Homo sapiens: one gene and its partner. The protein of the gene in region 1 interacts with the protein of each later gene in a biochemical or structural test. Each region holds a gene or a part of one and is shown in the gene's direction. Other genes may lie near its edges.

The links.
Region 2: the proteins of TPM1 (region 1) and CNN1 form a complex in vitro, tested with the Homo sapiens proteins (one study listed by BioGRID).

Annotation. Positions count from the first base shown.
Region 1 is NC_000015.10:63,052,725-63,056,537, forward strand, and holds part of TPM1 (tropomyosin alpha-1 chain), read left to right. Parts: intron 1-3,813. UniProt on the Homo sapiens protein: Binds to actin filaments in muscle and non-muscle cells. Plays a central role, in association with the troponin complex, in the calcium dependent regulation of vertebrate striated muscle contraction.
Region 2 is NC_000019.10:11,545,254-11,549,066, forward strand, and holds part of CNN1 (calponin-1), read left to right. Parts: intron 1-1,421; coding exon 1,422-1,488; intron 1,489-1,578; coding exon 1,579-1,716; intron 1,717-2,543; coding exon 2,544-2,654; intron 2,655-3,813. UniProt on the Homo sapiens protein: Thin filament-associated protein that is implicated in the regulation and modulation of smooth muscle contraction. It is capable of binding to actin, calmodulin and tropomyosin. The interaction of calponin with actin inhibits the actomyosin Mg-ATPase activity.

The DNA of each region.
Region 1 (3,813 bases):
ATGATGAAAAGAACCTTAGAAAATATTGAAATAAGCTCAAAACTTAAAAAAAAAAATACCAGAAATAAAAGCTAGTAAAGGTGAGAGGTGTGGGGCTTTTGGAACATAGAGCATAATAAATCAGAATAAAAAGTAAAAATAAGAAAGAGAAAAAAGTGGCCCTGATTAAATTATAAAATTAAGCATATCTTGAATTCTAACGAGCCAAACAAAAATTCTACTAGGCCAGTATAATAGGGCCTGCAGAGCCTGTCATGGGTTCAGGGTTTTCCCATAAAGATAGGTGTACCTCAGATACTACTCCTAGGTCCTGGCTTTAACCTCAAAGCCCCTCTGCCTGTCCTGCTCTGAAACCTCTGGGGCAGTAGGCATTGACTTCTGGGCTAGGGAGTAAATGTTCCGTGTCCTTATGTGAGCTTCCTATTACCCATTAGCATTGTTTTATGAAGTTTTCAATTTTATATCCTGCCTCATTTCAAAAAGATTGTGATAATCACTTTAGCAGATGATTTGCATTGCAGCAACTGTTCTCCCAGTCCTGGTTAGGATCTGTGCCTGAGGCCTTTTGTGGGGAGTTGGGGTGGGGGCCGGAGAACATCTCAATCTGATCTCAGGAGAGATAAAGACACAGGAGTGAGAACTGCCAGTTCCAAGGTTTCCGTGATGTTCCGGGAAGCCAGGAGAAGTGACATAGTGGAGAGCCGGCATGCTGGGAGCCTAGTGACTTGGATCTTAATCCTGTCTCACACTGATGGCTGTATGGCCTCCACATACTTCTGTGCCCAGGGTCAGAGTTCCCTCCTGCCGCCTGTTTCTAGTCAAGAGCTAGAAGAATAGCCAGCTTCTTTGGGTGGTGGCAAAGGGGATTGTTTATTTATAGTACAGATTCCTGCCCTCCCCCTTTGACCTCCTGAATCAGAATCTCTAGGGACACGGCCTGGAAGTTTGATTTTTTTTTTTTTTTTTTTGTTTTTGAGACAAGAGTCTTGCTCTGTCGCCCAGGCTGGAGTGCAGTGGCATGATCTCGGCTCACTGCAGTCTCTGCCTCCCGGGTTCAAGCAATTCTCCTGCCTCAGCCTCCTGAGTAGCTGGGATTACAGGCATGTGCCACCATGCCTGGCTAATTTTTGTGTTTTTTGTAGAGACGGGGTTTCACCATGTTGGTCAGGCTGGTCTCGAACTCCTGACCTCATGATTGCCCGCCTCGGCCTCCCAAAGTGCTGGGATTACAGGCGTGAGCCACAGCGCCCAGCTGAAAGTTTTTTTTTTAATGCTCATCTCTGAGTTGATTCTGACACTCAGCCACTTGTGGGAATTGCTGATCTGGACAATGCCTAGGGATCCTTCTAGCTAAAAAATTGAGACCCTATTTTTTGGATTTACAGGGCCTCCTCAGGAAGGGGCAGCCACTCTCAGGTCTGCTGTGTGTGCCCTACCATTCCTCCCACTATATCACAAACTGGCACCTAGAAACTGGTCTCCATGCCCAGTCGTTGCTGGGGCACCCTGTATGAAGCCCTGCTGGCTGGTATTCCTGTAGGACATATTCTCTGATGTCCAGGAGTCTGAGGTTCTACAGAATGCCCCTGGGGAAACAAGAGTGGCATTTAGACAACAGCATTCTGTAAACACAGTGCCAAGAGCTAAGGGAAAGAATGGGGGTGGGGGTGATCGGAGGGAAGACACGGATGGATTGGTAGGGGCCCTTTGGGTAGGAAGATCTCATGTGCAAGGCTGGAATGAACATGAGGTGCTGTTTCCTTCCTTTCTGGTGACTCGGCTGTGTGGGGAGCTGGGGATAGAGACCTGTCACCCAGAGGGTTCTTTCCCCAAAGCATAAACAGTCGTCTTTCTGTGAGTACAAAGTCCTTGAGGTTCAGGCCCAGATCTAAAGCAGAGCAGAGAACTTGGAACTTGGTAGCTACAAAAAAGTTTTGAAAATCTTGCTGGCATTTCTCTAATAGGCCATAGCCTCTGTAACAAGGATATTTGCCATCATATTGAAAATGATAAGAAAGGGGGAAAGAAAAGAAAGTGTACAGTGCTTTTGAGTACATAACCTAGACACTCTATGGAGGCTTTTTGTTGTTGTAGGGCTTTTGGTTTGTGTGCTTGGTTTTTTTGTGTGGCTTTAAATTTTGTTTTGTTTTGTTTGCCCTTTGTTTTTGCTTCCGCTTTGAGTCTCCCCCCCACCCTCAAAAGGAATAGAATTTTACTGGAAAATGAAAATATAGAAAAGTGAAGAAATCTTACCTGACCCAAAAGTATATCCTTAATATATACATCCTTCCAGTAATAGTAATAAAAAAAAAAAGCCTAATGGTTTTTAAAAGACACTTCCCTATAATTGAGAGATTTGTTATCCTATTACCCTCACCCTTCAATACACACACACACCAGAAACAACAGTCATCTGCCAGTAATTCCTAGCTGGGTCCATTTACCAGCTGTGCACTGATAATGATTTACTTTGTAGGCAGTACAGTTGTAAATGCTCTTCCTCTGATTTATTTCACATTTGCCCTGCTCCCTGCCTCCATCAACCAATTACTACATTTTTGTCAAGATAAAAGTGTATTTACATGTTTTTATAGAGTCCTTCACCGTGGTTGGAGATGCCCTACTCACCTCTCTTCCCAGATAAAACTTGGCATTTAAAATCTTACAAATCTAGGTGAGCAAAGAGCTGAAGGTTCTCAGATTCCTTTGATTAAAGACTATGACCACAGTTTCTAACTACATTTGCATTTCCAACTCTGTATTGTGGATCCATAAGCTGAGAACGTTGCTTTTATTAAAATTAGGTTGGTTTTACTCATCTTACTGAGCCCATACTCTGTGCAGAGAACTGTGAGTTCTCTGGATGTGAGCAGCTTACAGTTCAATGACAAAGACAGGGCTGTGTGTAGAGAAATTTGTTATCCTATTACCATGGGTCCCTAAGTGTGTATTGTAATTTCTAGAAAACTCCTAAGTGTTCTGAAAACCCCACCACCCCTTAGTGAACATACATTCAAAGTGGATGAGGATATTTTACCTGATTAGTAAATTCCATCTCCCACTTCCATGCACAATATTTAAACAGCCACCAGTGCAAGTGTGTATAATGGACCATCATAGTCTTATAAGTGTTCTGAGGCTCATAGCAACAATTTCTTATGACAGGAAAAAAATCATTGCCTCTCAAAGAAACCAACATTTTATTTCAGTGACAGATACCAAGTAAAAACAGTACTTGTATTATTTTTCTTTTTAGGAGTTTGATACTTTTCTTGTATTAACCTTGACTTCAAAGAAAAATCATAGGCTTACATCAAAAACACTTGGGAAATTTGTCTTGGCTCTGTTCCAATGAGGCCAGTTATTCTAAAAGGGGTTACTGGATTGTGTTGGGCCTTCATGTGGTGTGTATTTTAGAACCACTGAATTTTAAACTATTTAAGTTCCTTTGTAAGGATCCTATGATAAAGTGGCTTGAAGGAAAGAGTTGAGTGAAACTCTTGAGTCCGATTTCTGGCTGTACTGCTATTGTCTTACATGGCTGAGCCTGGGTAAGTCTTGTCTCAGTTCACACTTCAGGCCCCCAGTGAGTGAGGTGGCCGTGATGACGCTCTTGTTTAACAGGCAAGTAAAGCCAGGGTGTTGAACTCTACGGAAGTGGGCCGGGCGCAGTGGCTCACGCCTGTAATCCCAGCACTTTGAGAGGCCAAGGCAGGTGGATAAGGAGGTCAGGAGATTGAGACCATCCTGGCTAACACGGTGAAACCCCGTCTCTACTAAAAATACAAAAAAATTAGCCGGGCGTTGTGGCGG
Region 2 (3,813 bases), on another chromosome or scaffold:
GGATGAAGTGGAAGTTGGGAGCTCATTACAAGAGGCCAGGAAACAGACTCTGGTGGCTGAGACCCAGGTGGAGGTGGCGGGGAGCAGTGGGTGGTTTTCTGGACTCATTAAAAGGCAGAGCCAAAGAACTTTGGAGGGACTGGACATGAGGCTGAGAGAAGGAGAAAGGGGGAGTTGGGGGCAAGTCCAAGGGCTCTGGCTGAGCACCTAGAAGGGGGCACTGCTAGGCAGGGAAGGTGGAGGGAGGGGGGAGTCTGGAGGGGGAAGCTGCATGTCAGGAGTCTGGAGCAGGGTGAGTTTGATTTGAGACACCCAGGCACCCATGGAGAGAGCTGAATGAGATGGTAAGAAACCCAAGCTGCAGGGAGATGAGGGAGTTGCTGGCATATGGAGGCACTTAAAGTCAAGACACTGAATGAGGCCAGGTGCTGTCACTCATGCCTGTAATCCCAGCGCTTTGGGAGGCTGAGGCAGGAGGATCGCTTGAGCCCAGGAGTTCAAGACCAGCTTGGGCAATACAAATACAGTGAAACCCCCTCTCTACCAAAAAAAAAAAAAAAAAAAAAGCCAGGCATGGTGGTGCGCACCTGTGATCCCAGCTACTCGGAAGGCTGAGGTGGGAGGATCGCTGGAGCCTGGGAAGTTGAGGCTGCAGTGAGCTGTGATTGCACCACTGCTCTCCAGCCTGGGCGACAAAGCCACACCCTGCATCAAAAAGAAAAAAAAAAGAAAAGAAAAGAAAAAAGAGGCGAGATCATTAAAGGAGTGAGTCAGAGAAGAGGCCCTTGTGGGCTTCCTGCTGTCTACAAGAGAAAAGGATGCTGAGACACGCCTGCCAGTGAGGCTTCGGAGATCCCAGAGACTCGGACACACCTTGGATAAGCAGGCTTTCTGACTGGGACCTGAGTCTAGCTCCTTGGCATCAGTGTCCCATTTGTGTGTGTGCTTGGGTGGTTTGGAGGGGCTGCAGCTGAGAGCTGACTGCAGGGAGAAGTGACGCTAGGGTATGGCATGGCCCCTTGTGGTCATCCCGTCACCCTCCTCCTGCTGGGCTGGGCTGGAGAGCGGGAGTGGGGGACACCTTTCTTTCTTTTTTTTTTTTTTTTGAGACGGAGTCTCGCTCTGTCCCCAAGCTGGAATGCAGTGCTGCAATCTCAGCTCACTGCAACCTCCGCCTCCTGGGTTCAAGTGATTGCCTCAGCCTCCTGAGTAGCTGGGAGTACAGGCATGTGCCACCACGCCTGGCTAATTTTTGTATTTTTAGTAGAGATGGGGTTTCACCATGTTGGCCAGGATAGTCTCGCTCTCCTGACCTCGTGATCCACCCGCCTTGGCCTCCCAAAGTGCTGGGATTACAGGCGTGAGCCACCGTGCCCAACCCTGGGGGGACACCTTTCTTACCCCTTCCCCACTCTTCTCAGATTCATCAATAAGCTGCAGCCAGGCTCCGTGAAGAAGATCAATGAGTCAACCCAAAATTGGCACCAGGTGAGCCCAGACACAATCTCTTCCATCCTTGCCCGCAAGCCCCTCAGACCTCCCCTCCCCACCCAGTGACCACCACCTGCCCCCCTCTAGCTGGAGAACATCGGCAACTTCATCAAGGCCATCACCAAGTATGGGGTGAAGCCCCACGACATTTTTGAGGCCAACGACCTGTTTGAGAACACCAACCATACACAGGTGCAGTCCACCCTCCTGGCTTTGGCCAGCATGGTGAGTGTGGTTGCAGGCTGGGCAGGGGGTGGTGGGCAGCCTGGGCTGGGATGCAGGTGTGGCCACTTGTGCTCCTGAGCCCAGTGAAGGTGGCGGAGCGGGGGGCAGGGATCGGGGAGCAGGTGCTGTCAACAGCGTCCAAGGGGGCCGGGCGCGGTCGCTCACACCTGTAATCCCAGCACTTTGGGAGGCCAAGGTGAGCGGATTGCTTGAGGCCGGGAGTTTGAGACCAGTCTGGCCAACATGGTGAAATCCCGTCTCTACTAAAAATACAAAAATTAGCTGGACGTGGTGACGCATGCCTGTAATCCCAGCTACTCAGGAGGCTGAGGCAGGAGAATCGCTTGAACCCGGGAGGCGGAGTCTGCAGTGAGCCGAGATCGTGCCACTGCCCAGCCTGGGTGACAGAGCCAAGACTCCGTCTCAAAAAAAAAAAAACAAAAAACAAAAAACAGTGTTGGCCGGGCACGGTGGCTCACGCCTGTAATCCCAGCACTTTGGGAGGCCGAGACAGGTGGATCACAAGGTCAGGAGATTGAGACCATCCTGGCTAACATGGTGAAACCCTGTCTCTACTAAAACTACAAAACAAAATTAGCCGGGCATGGTGGCAGGCGCTTGTAGTCCCAGCTACTAGGGAGACTGATGCAGGAGAATGGTGTGAAGCCGGGAGGCGGAGCTTGCAGTGAGCTGAGATCACGCCACTGCACTCCAGCCTGGGCAACAGAGCGAGACTCTGTGTCAACAACAACAAAAAAACAGTGTCCAAGGGGACTGTGCAGCCTGGAGGCCCCCTTGTCAGTCCCTGCTTTCCCTGCCCCACCTAGGCGAAGACGAAAGGAAACAAGGTGAACGTGGGAGTGAAGTACGCAGAGAAGCAGGAGCGGAAATTCGAGCCGGGGAAGCTAAGAGAAGGGCGGAACATCATTGGGCTGCAGGTACCGCCCTGTCCTCACTGCGCAGAGGTCATAGAGGCCAGGAGGGCACCCTGATGTCTGAAGGCTTTTGGGGACAGGATATTTGGCATTAACTATACTATAGGCCGGGTACTGTGCTTATGCTCATCTTCCATTCACAAACTCACTCACTCTGCCAACACCCCAGCAGACAGGTGCTTGTTATCAACATACCCTTTCCGCAGATGAGAAAACTGAGACCCGGAGAAGCTGGCTCGCTTTTGCACAGATCTTCCAGCTGATGCGTGGCAGGCTGGAACTTCAATGCTAGAAGTCAGTCATGTGATAGGCCCACTCTGGGCCTCAGTTTCCAGTCTCGAAAGGATGCCTCAGGCGGGGTGCAGTGGCTCACACCTGTAATTCCAGCACTTGGGGAGGCTGAGGCAGGAGGATTGCTTGAGGTCAGGTGTTTCAGACCAGCCTGGGCAAAATAGAACCCCCCTCCACCGCCATCTCTACAACAAATTTAAGAGTTTAGCCAAATGCAGTGGTGTCTGCCTGTGGTCCCAGCTACTTAGGAGGCTGAAGTGGGAGAATCACTTGAGCCCAGGAGTTCAAGGTTACAATGATTGCATCACTGGACTCCAGCCTGGGCGACAGAGTGAGACCCTGTCTCTAAAAATGAAAATGGGCTGGGTATGGTGGCTCATGCCAGTAATCCTAGCACTTCGGGAGGCCGAGGCAGGCGGATCACTTAAAGTCAAGAGTTCAAGGCCAGCCTGGCCAACGTGGTGAAACCCTGTCACTACCAAAAATACAAAAACTAGCCGGTGTGGTGGGGCACACCTGTAGTCCCAGCTACTCAGGAGGCTGAGGCAGGAGAATTGCTTGAACTCAGGAGGCAGAGGTTGCAGTGGGCCAAGATTGTGCCGCTGCACTCCAACCTGGGCGACAGAGTGAGATGCTATCTCAAATAAAATAAAATAAAACAAAAAAATAGAATAGAACAAAATAAAATATAAAAATAAACTAAAAAATGGGCCAGGCACAGTGGCTCACCCCTGTAATCCCAGCACTTTGGGAGGGTGAGGTGGGTGGATCACCTGAGGTCAGGAGTTCGAGACCAGCGTGGCCAACATGGTGAAACCCCATTTCTACTAAAAATACAAAAAATTATCCGGGCATGGTGATGCCCACCTGT